2 linked regions of the Homo sapiens genome follow. The protein of the gene in region 2 interacts with the protein of the main gene of each other region in a biochemical or structural test. Each region holds a gene or a part of one and is shown on either strand. Other genes may lie near its edges.

Region 1 (3,824 bases), on a different chromosome or scaffold from region 2:
GTGAAAGACAAAAGCCATATGATCCTCAATAGATGCAGAAAAATCTTTTGATAAAATTTAAGCTCACTTCATGATAGAAACTTCTTACAATTAGGTATAGAAGGAAAGTACTTCAATATAACAAAGGCCACATGTGACAAACTCACAGCAAACATCTTACTAAATTAGAAAAAGTTGGAAGTTTTTCTTCCAAGAACAGGGACAGACAATGATGCTTACTCTCACCACTCTTATTCAATATAGCACTGGAAATCCTAGTCAGAGTCATTAGGCAAGAGAAATAAATAAATGGCATTCATATTCAAGAGAAAGAAGTCAAATTGTTCCTGTTTACAGATGATAATCTCATATATAGAAAGACTCTACCAAAAACTCTTAGAACTAATAAATCATTCAATAAAGTTGCAGGAAACAAAATTAATATACAAACATCAGTAGTGTTTTCTACACAAACAATGAACTAGCTGGAAAAAAAATATCAAGAGGGCAATCCCATTACAACAGCTACAAACAAACAAAAAACAACCTTAGGAAGAAATGTAACCAAGGAGGTGAAAGACCTCTACAAGGAAAACTACAAGACACTGATGAAATAAATGGAAGAGGATACAAACAAATGGAAAGACAACCCATGCTCATGGAGGAGAACTAATATTGTCAAAATGACAACACTATTCAAAGCAACCTACAGATTCAATGCAATTCCTATCAAAATACCCATGACATTCTTCACATAAATAGAAAAAAGTTCTAAACTTTGTATGGAGCCACAAAAGAACCCAAATAGCTAAAGCAAACCTGAGCAAAAAGAACAAAGCTGGAAGTATCACACCACCAAACCTCAAAATACACTACAGAGTTATAGTAACCAAAATAGCATGTTACTAACAAAAGCAGACACATAGGCCAATGGAACAGAATAGAGAATCCAGAAATTAATCCAAATATCTACAGCAAACTGATTTTTGACAAAGGTGCCAAGAATACTCATTGGGGAAAAGACAGTCTCCTGAATAAATGGTTCTGGGCAAACTGGATGTCTATAGAAGAATGAAACTAGGCCCAAACCTCTCACTCTACAAAATTTAACTCAAAATGGATCAAAGACTTAAATATAAGACCCAAAATGATAAAAACTACTAGAAGGAAACATGGGACACACATTTCAGAACACTGGTCTGGGAAATGATTTTGTGAATAAAACCTCAAAAGCACAGGCAACAAAAGCAAAAATAAACAAATGGGATTATCAAACTAGAAAGTTTCTGCACAGCAAAGGAAGCAATCAACAGAGTGAAAAGATAACCTACAGAATTTGAGAAAATATTTGCAAGCTACTAATCTGACAGGTGACTAATATTCAGAATATACAAGGTACTCAAACATCTCAACAGCAAAATATTCAATTTTAAAATGGGTAAATGATTTAAACAGACATTTCACAAAGAAGACATTCAAATGGTCAACAGGTATATGAAAAAATGTTCAACATCACTAATCATCAGTGATGATTTTGCAACTCAAAACCACGATGAGGTATCATCTCACCCCAGTTAGGATGGCTATTATCAAAAAGATGAAAAAACAAATGTTGGCAAGGATGTGGAGTAAAGGGAACTCATGTGTTGTTGGTGGGACTGTAAAGTAGTATAGCCACCATGGAGAACTATATGGAGGTTCCTCAAGAAACTAAAAGTAGAATTACCATATGATCCATCAGTCTCACTTGTGGGTACTTGCCCAAAAGCTTTGAAACCAGTTTGCCTAAGAGATGTCTGCACTGACATGTTTACTGCAGCACTATTCACAATAGCCAAGTTATGGAATCAACCTAAGTGTTCAACAACAGATGAATGGATAAAGAAAATGTGGTATATATACATAATGGAATACTATTCAGCCATAAAATGGAATGAAATCTTGTCATCTGTGGCAACAAGGGTGGAAATGGAGGACATTATGTTAAGTCCATTGTATTTCCTAAACCAGAAACAGAAAGTCAAACACCATATGTTCTCACTCATATGTGGAATAGTAAAAAAAGTTGATCTCATAGAAGTAAAAAGTAGAACAGAGGAAACCAGAGGCCTGGAAGAGTGGGGGAAAGGGAGAGATTTGGTAAAGGATACAAAATTACCACTAGATGAGAGGAATAAGTTCTAATGTTCTATACCACTGTAAGATGGCTCTAATTAACAATAATGTATTAAATAGTTTCAACTAGTTCAAAGGAGGATATTGAACGATCCCAACAAAAGGAAATGATAAATATTTGAGATGATGGATATGCTAATTACCCTGATCTGATCAATATACATTACATGTATAGAAACATCAATATATACCCCATGAATATGCAATTATTATTTGTCAATTTGACAAATAAATTAAAATAAATAGAAGTGTTCACAGGAGACAGTTGGTGTAAGGTAGCAGGCCACATCTGCCACTTACTGGCTGTGAGATTTTGCAGAAGTGACCTATCTTCTCTGAGCCTCAGTTATGCCATCTATAAATGGCATAATAAATGTGAGTTGTCTCATACAGGGTGAGCGCTCAGTGATGTTAACTATTATTATTAAACCTCAGAATTGGGACCTAGAACAAGCATTAAGGAGGCAAAATTTTTGCAGGGCACTAGTAAATATATAAAAACAAGGCTGAGAAATGATTTAATGATAAAAAATGGTGAGAAGCATGACAGGTGTTGCTCTCAGCTGCAGGGAAGCAGTAACAGAGCAGCAACCTCAGGATTTAAATCCTGATTTGTTCACGGACTACCTCTATGACCATGGGAAAATGACTTTATCTCCCTCGGCGTCAGCTCCTTATCAGTAAAAGGGGGTAATGCGGCCAGGCAAAGTGGCTCATGTCTGTAATCCTAGCACTTTGGGAGGCTGAGGCAGGAAGATCGCTTGAGCCCAGGAATTCAAGAGCAGCCTGGGCAATAGAGCAAGACACTGTCTCAATAAAAAAGAAAAATTAAAAAAAAAGATTAATTTAAATAAATAAATAAAAGAAAGGGGTAATGCTAATAATAGTTCTTACTTCATAGGGTTGTAAGGATGAAGTGAGATAATACATGAATGGCACTTAGGTCAGGGCCTGGACCAGAGAAAGTGCCATATTAAGTGTTAGCTGTTGTTATTGCAAAGGCTGACAGAATAAGCTCTCTGAAGTTGTGCAGAGAGGATTCTGCAACACATTTGTTCCTCAAAATCCCAGAGGCCTCAGAGTGCTGAATTAACACGGCCCTCCAGAACAGGGAAGTATCACTGAGAGTTTACTCTTGAGACCCAAGCTGACAACTCAGAGTTTATTTGTAACAGGCTCCAAATGTCATGTCAGAAATGCCAAGCTTTCTAGACCTTCCTGGCCTTCCAAGAACGGTCTTGTGCTTTCAGAATTTTTTTTTCAAAAAGTCAAGGTGAATTAAGTTCTTGGAGATCAAAACAGAAACACAGATAAAAGGAACTGAAATTGTGACATATTTTGAATGTGAAACGGAGCTGGTCTCTGAGCTTCCAGAGGAAGTGGGATGGAGGGGAATGAATCTCACAGGGCCTTGTTTTCATGGACTCAGTGCCTTGGAGAATTTTGCTGCACTGATTTTTCCTCTACCCGGTCACCCACAAAGTGCCTCAAGGAGCCCCCAAAGTATGAGTCACTTCATTGGCCACCAGGCTGGTGACCCTTTGCTTTCTGAATGCCATTTATTTCCACATGCCACTTAACCATGAAGTCAGCACTTTGGGCCATTGGTGAAGAGTTTTCTGGCAGATCTACTGTTATCTCCCAGAGAACAACTTATCCCCAGGGATGTA
Region 2 (3,824 bases):
ACCAGTTTGGAGGATTATAAGCTTCATGCCCCACACCACTGAACAGGGAGTAAATTATTAATCCCTGAATCAAACCCCACCCAGAGCTCCCACAGAGTACCTTGTCTATGGATCATGCCACCATGAAGAATTCTGGCCACCGTACAGGACTGTTTTTCATTCAGCTTCAGCGTGATTCCCTGAAATAAAGGCGACGGCACAATAAGCTTTATTTTAAGCTCTTTCTGAGGTTATTTTAGAAAGAACTTACGGTAATTTCTCAGGAAAATATTTTCCATTTATACCCAGGATAGTCCTCAACTAGAACAGGCATGAAGCCTGCTTTGAGGAGGAATTTGAGATAAGAATGAAAAGACAATTTTGGGGTTGGCCAATTCCCTAACTCCATGAGCAGCCTCTTGCATTGACTCTTCTGGCCCAGTGACTCATGGGGCAGAGAGTAACTGGTGGGCGACAATATGACGGGGGATTACCATGGGCTCTTCTGTGACCTTCTCAAACTGTATGAGTCGCACTTTCCGCACCTCCTGTCCCTTGACCTGGGCAGGGCTACCTGGGGCAGGAGACCCGTTGGTGTACATGTCCTCGGTCACAGTATTCAATGGATGCGATACAGCCTGCCAAGCCAAAACAACAAAGCAACGTATGAAATCAGGAGCAAGGCCCACAGCCAGTCCACAATCTGCAATTCTAACATTCAAGAGGCTCTGAAAACTTATTTCATAAGTTTGGCCTCATTCTTATTTGAATTGACATGAAGCTGTTTGTAAGCTTTATTTCTCCAACTTAATAGACATGTCAGCCAAGTGTGGTGGTGTGCACCTGTAGTCCCAGCTACAGTCCCAGGGCAACAGAGTGAGACCCTGTCTCTAAAAATAAATAAAATAGACATGTTTATCTAGGTTGCTGCAGAAATATTAATGTGCCTTGATTTACATGGTGCTCTCCTGGATCCTGCTTGGGGTATTACATAATATATAACAAAATTAGAAAGATTCTGAATCCTGCGGCACCTCAGGCTCCAAGGGTTTCTGGCATGTTCTCTTCTCCTTTGTATTTCCTTGAACAACCTGATGCTCTCGGTCACACAGCAATAAAGGTAATTCAGGTTAGCATCAGTTTCTCATGAATCACCCCTTAGGCTACAAAGAACTTCTACCTGTAGAATTAGGCACTTAGGACTGGGCCCCGAACCGCGGTGATAACAATAATACATTGCCACTGTGACTTCTTCCCCTGATCTCAAAGACAGCAAAGCTAAATGAGTTACTCTACCAGGCAGCAAGGCCTCTTTATTATAAATCTAAAGTAATTTAAGGCACTGTGGTAAGAAGAAAGACAAACGACCCATGTAATGGAACAGAGAGTGCAAAAACAGAGCCACACATTTATAGTCAGGTGACACTGCAGTGCAGCGGGGAAAAATGGTCTGCACGATAAATGTCATAAAAGGTCCCGAGTATAAAATGAAAACTAAAAAGACAAACACTTTAAAAGTAAGAAGTCTATTCATCAAAAAACTCCACTGAGATAAGCATAGATTTAGTAGACGAGACACGGAGCAATCATCATACAAGCAAACAACTGACTTCATCAAATTCAAACATCTTACATAAGAAACTAGACAGGTATGACACAGCCTGAGAATAAACATTTGCAATATTTACATCTGACAAAGGATTTGTATCCAGAACATATAAAGAACTCTTACAATTTAATAACAGGATGAAAAGAACCATAAACAAATCCTGAACTTGAGCCAATGATATGCATGCTGAAGCTTTCAGGGGTAAAGTGCTCTGATATCTGAAACTTATTTTGAAATACCAGGAAAAAGAAGGTGGATAGATGGGCAGTTTTTGGATAGAAATGTGATAAAGCAAACACAGCAACATGTTAACTGTAGAATCTAGGAGGTGTGGCTATATGGGTGTCACTATAAAATTCTTTCATCTTTTTGGCGCCATTCCAAGAGCAGCCAGTACTCTTTAAAAAATATTATAAAATTTAATTTTTGAACCATTTGAGAGTAATCTGAAGACTTCATTCTCCTTTACCCATAGATGTCTCTATATGTTAGGAACGAGCATTTTCAAAACTGAAAATTTAACATTGACACAATATTGTCATCTGCCAACCCTTTCAAGAATGTCCTTTATAGCTATATATTTCTTCCCCAGTCCAGAATCCAACCTAGGACTTTTTGGTCCCAGAATCCAATCTAAGACCAGAATCCAATCATGCATTTCACATTTCCTTACTCTTCCTTAATTTGGAAAATTTCCTCAGCCTTTCTTTTTCTTCTTTCATGACCTTGACATTCTTGAAGAGTACACACCTGTTATTTTGTAGATGTCTCTCAGTTTGGGGTTATCATCTGATGTTTTTTCAAGATTAGACTGGGATTTTGCATTTTTGGCAGGAATTCCAGGAAAGTAGTGGTGTGCCCTTTCCAGAACAACACTACTCTTAAAAGCCCAAACCTGAAAATAGCCCAAAAGTCCATCAACAGTAGAATGGATAAACTGAAGCATATCCAAGTGGATACCCTACATCAATGGCAATGAATGGCTACTGCTACACCACTCCATGGTAGATCACCTGTGGATCAGTCTCACAGGTGATCACTCTCTTCTCCTTAAAATGCTCCTTCTCAGTTTGCTTTGCTGTTCTTTCCTCATCTTACTGATCTGGGTAAGAGCAATCACAATGGGGAAAAACTATGGAAACCTCTGAAAATGCTCCCTGCCCACCCCAGATAAAATATTAAATCAAAAATGATATAGCCACCTGGAGGAGGAGGAGGAGGACGAGGAGGAGGAATAGGCCTGAAGTGGGCTTATGGAAGGGTCTGCTGAAAATAGGGGATAGCTGCATTCCAGTCACACCCAGAGGTGACCCTCAAAGACAGTAGGGAGGGAAGATCTTCCCAATAGGCAGAACTGTGAGGAGTGTGCCATTCACTGTGTGGGGAAGGAGAAGGGTCCCTAGATGGGAATAGATGGTATGCCTGAGCAGTGTCCACTGGCCTGCCCAAGGCCTAGAAAAGGACTAGAAGATGAGAGAGAAGGAAGTCTGGAGTAGAGGCTTACATCATTTCTAAGGGACTCTGATTTCTAAGTAGAAACTTTGATAAGATGGTGAGGTTTGGGCCAGGTGCAGTGGCTAACACCTGTAATCCCAGCACTTTGGGAGGCCAAGGTGGGGAGATCGCTTAAGCCCAGGAGTTTGAGACCAGCCTGGGCAACATGGTGAAACTCCTGCCTCTGTAAGAAATTTTAAAATTAGCTGAGTGTGGTGGTGCAAGCCTGTGGTCCCAGCTACTCAGGAGGCTGAGGCAGGGGGATTGCTTGAGCTCAGGAGTTGGAGGCAGCAGTGAGCCATGATCACACCACTACACTCCAACCTGGGCAACAGAGGAAGACCCTGTCTCAGAAAAACAAACAAACAAACAAACAAACAAAAAACATGGTGAGGTTTGAAGTAGTATTCGCTATCAGGTGACCTCAAATGAGGGAAGTACTGAGAAAGAGAAACTGCCTTCTCTAGCAACTAGAACTTCAAAAAACTCACATGACACCAAGTCATATGGCATTGCTGTTATAACAAAATTGTCTAAGATAGGCTTATATTTAAAAAATTGACTTATGATACCCGGGATACACCATGTAGGTAGGAAAAGGAGGTTCTGAGGGTGATCTTGAAGATTTATTGTTAAGCAAAAAATAATAATAATGTGATGAAGGGTATACTAGCTTCATCATAAACAGTGAAAGAATGATTATATTCATATTTGCTTAAAAATCCATAAACTGGCCAGGTTC

What was found.
Region 1: the proteins of MPP1 (region 2) and CYSLTR2 interact in a test that uses a peptide from one of them, tested with the Homo sapiens proteins (one large-scale study listed by IntAct).

What each region holds. Positions count from the first base shown.
Region 1 is NC_000013.11:48,660,279-48,664,102, reverse strand, and holds part of CYSLTR2 (cysteinyl leukotriene receptor 2), read right to left. Parts: intron 1-3,824. UniProt on the Homo sapiens protein: Receptor for cysteinyl leukotrienes. The response is mediated via a G-protein that activates a phosphatidylinositol-calcium second messenger system.
Region 2 is NC_000023.11:154,791,669-154,795,492, forward strand, and holds part of MPP1 (55 kDa erythrocyte membrane protein), read right to left. Parts: intron 618-3,824; coding exon 474-617; intron 180-473; coding exon 101-179; intron 1-100. UniProt on the Homo sapiens protein: Essential regulator of neutrophil polarity. Regulates neutrophil polarization by regulating AKT1 phosphorylation through a mechanism that is independent of PIK3CG activity.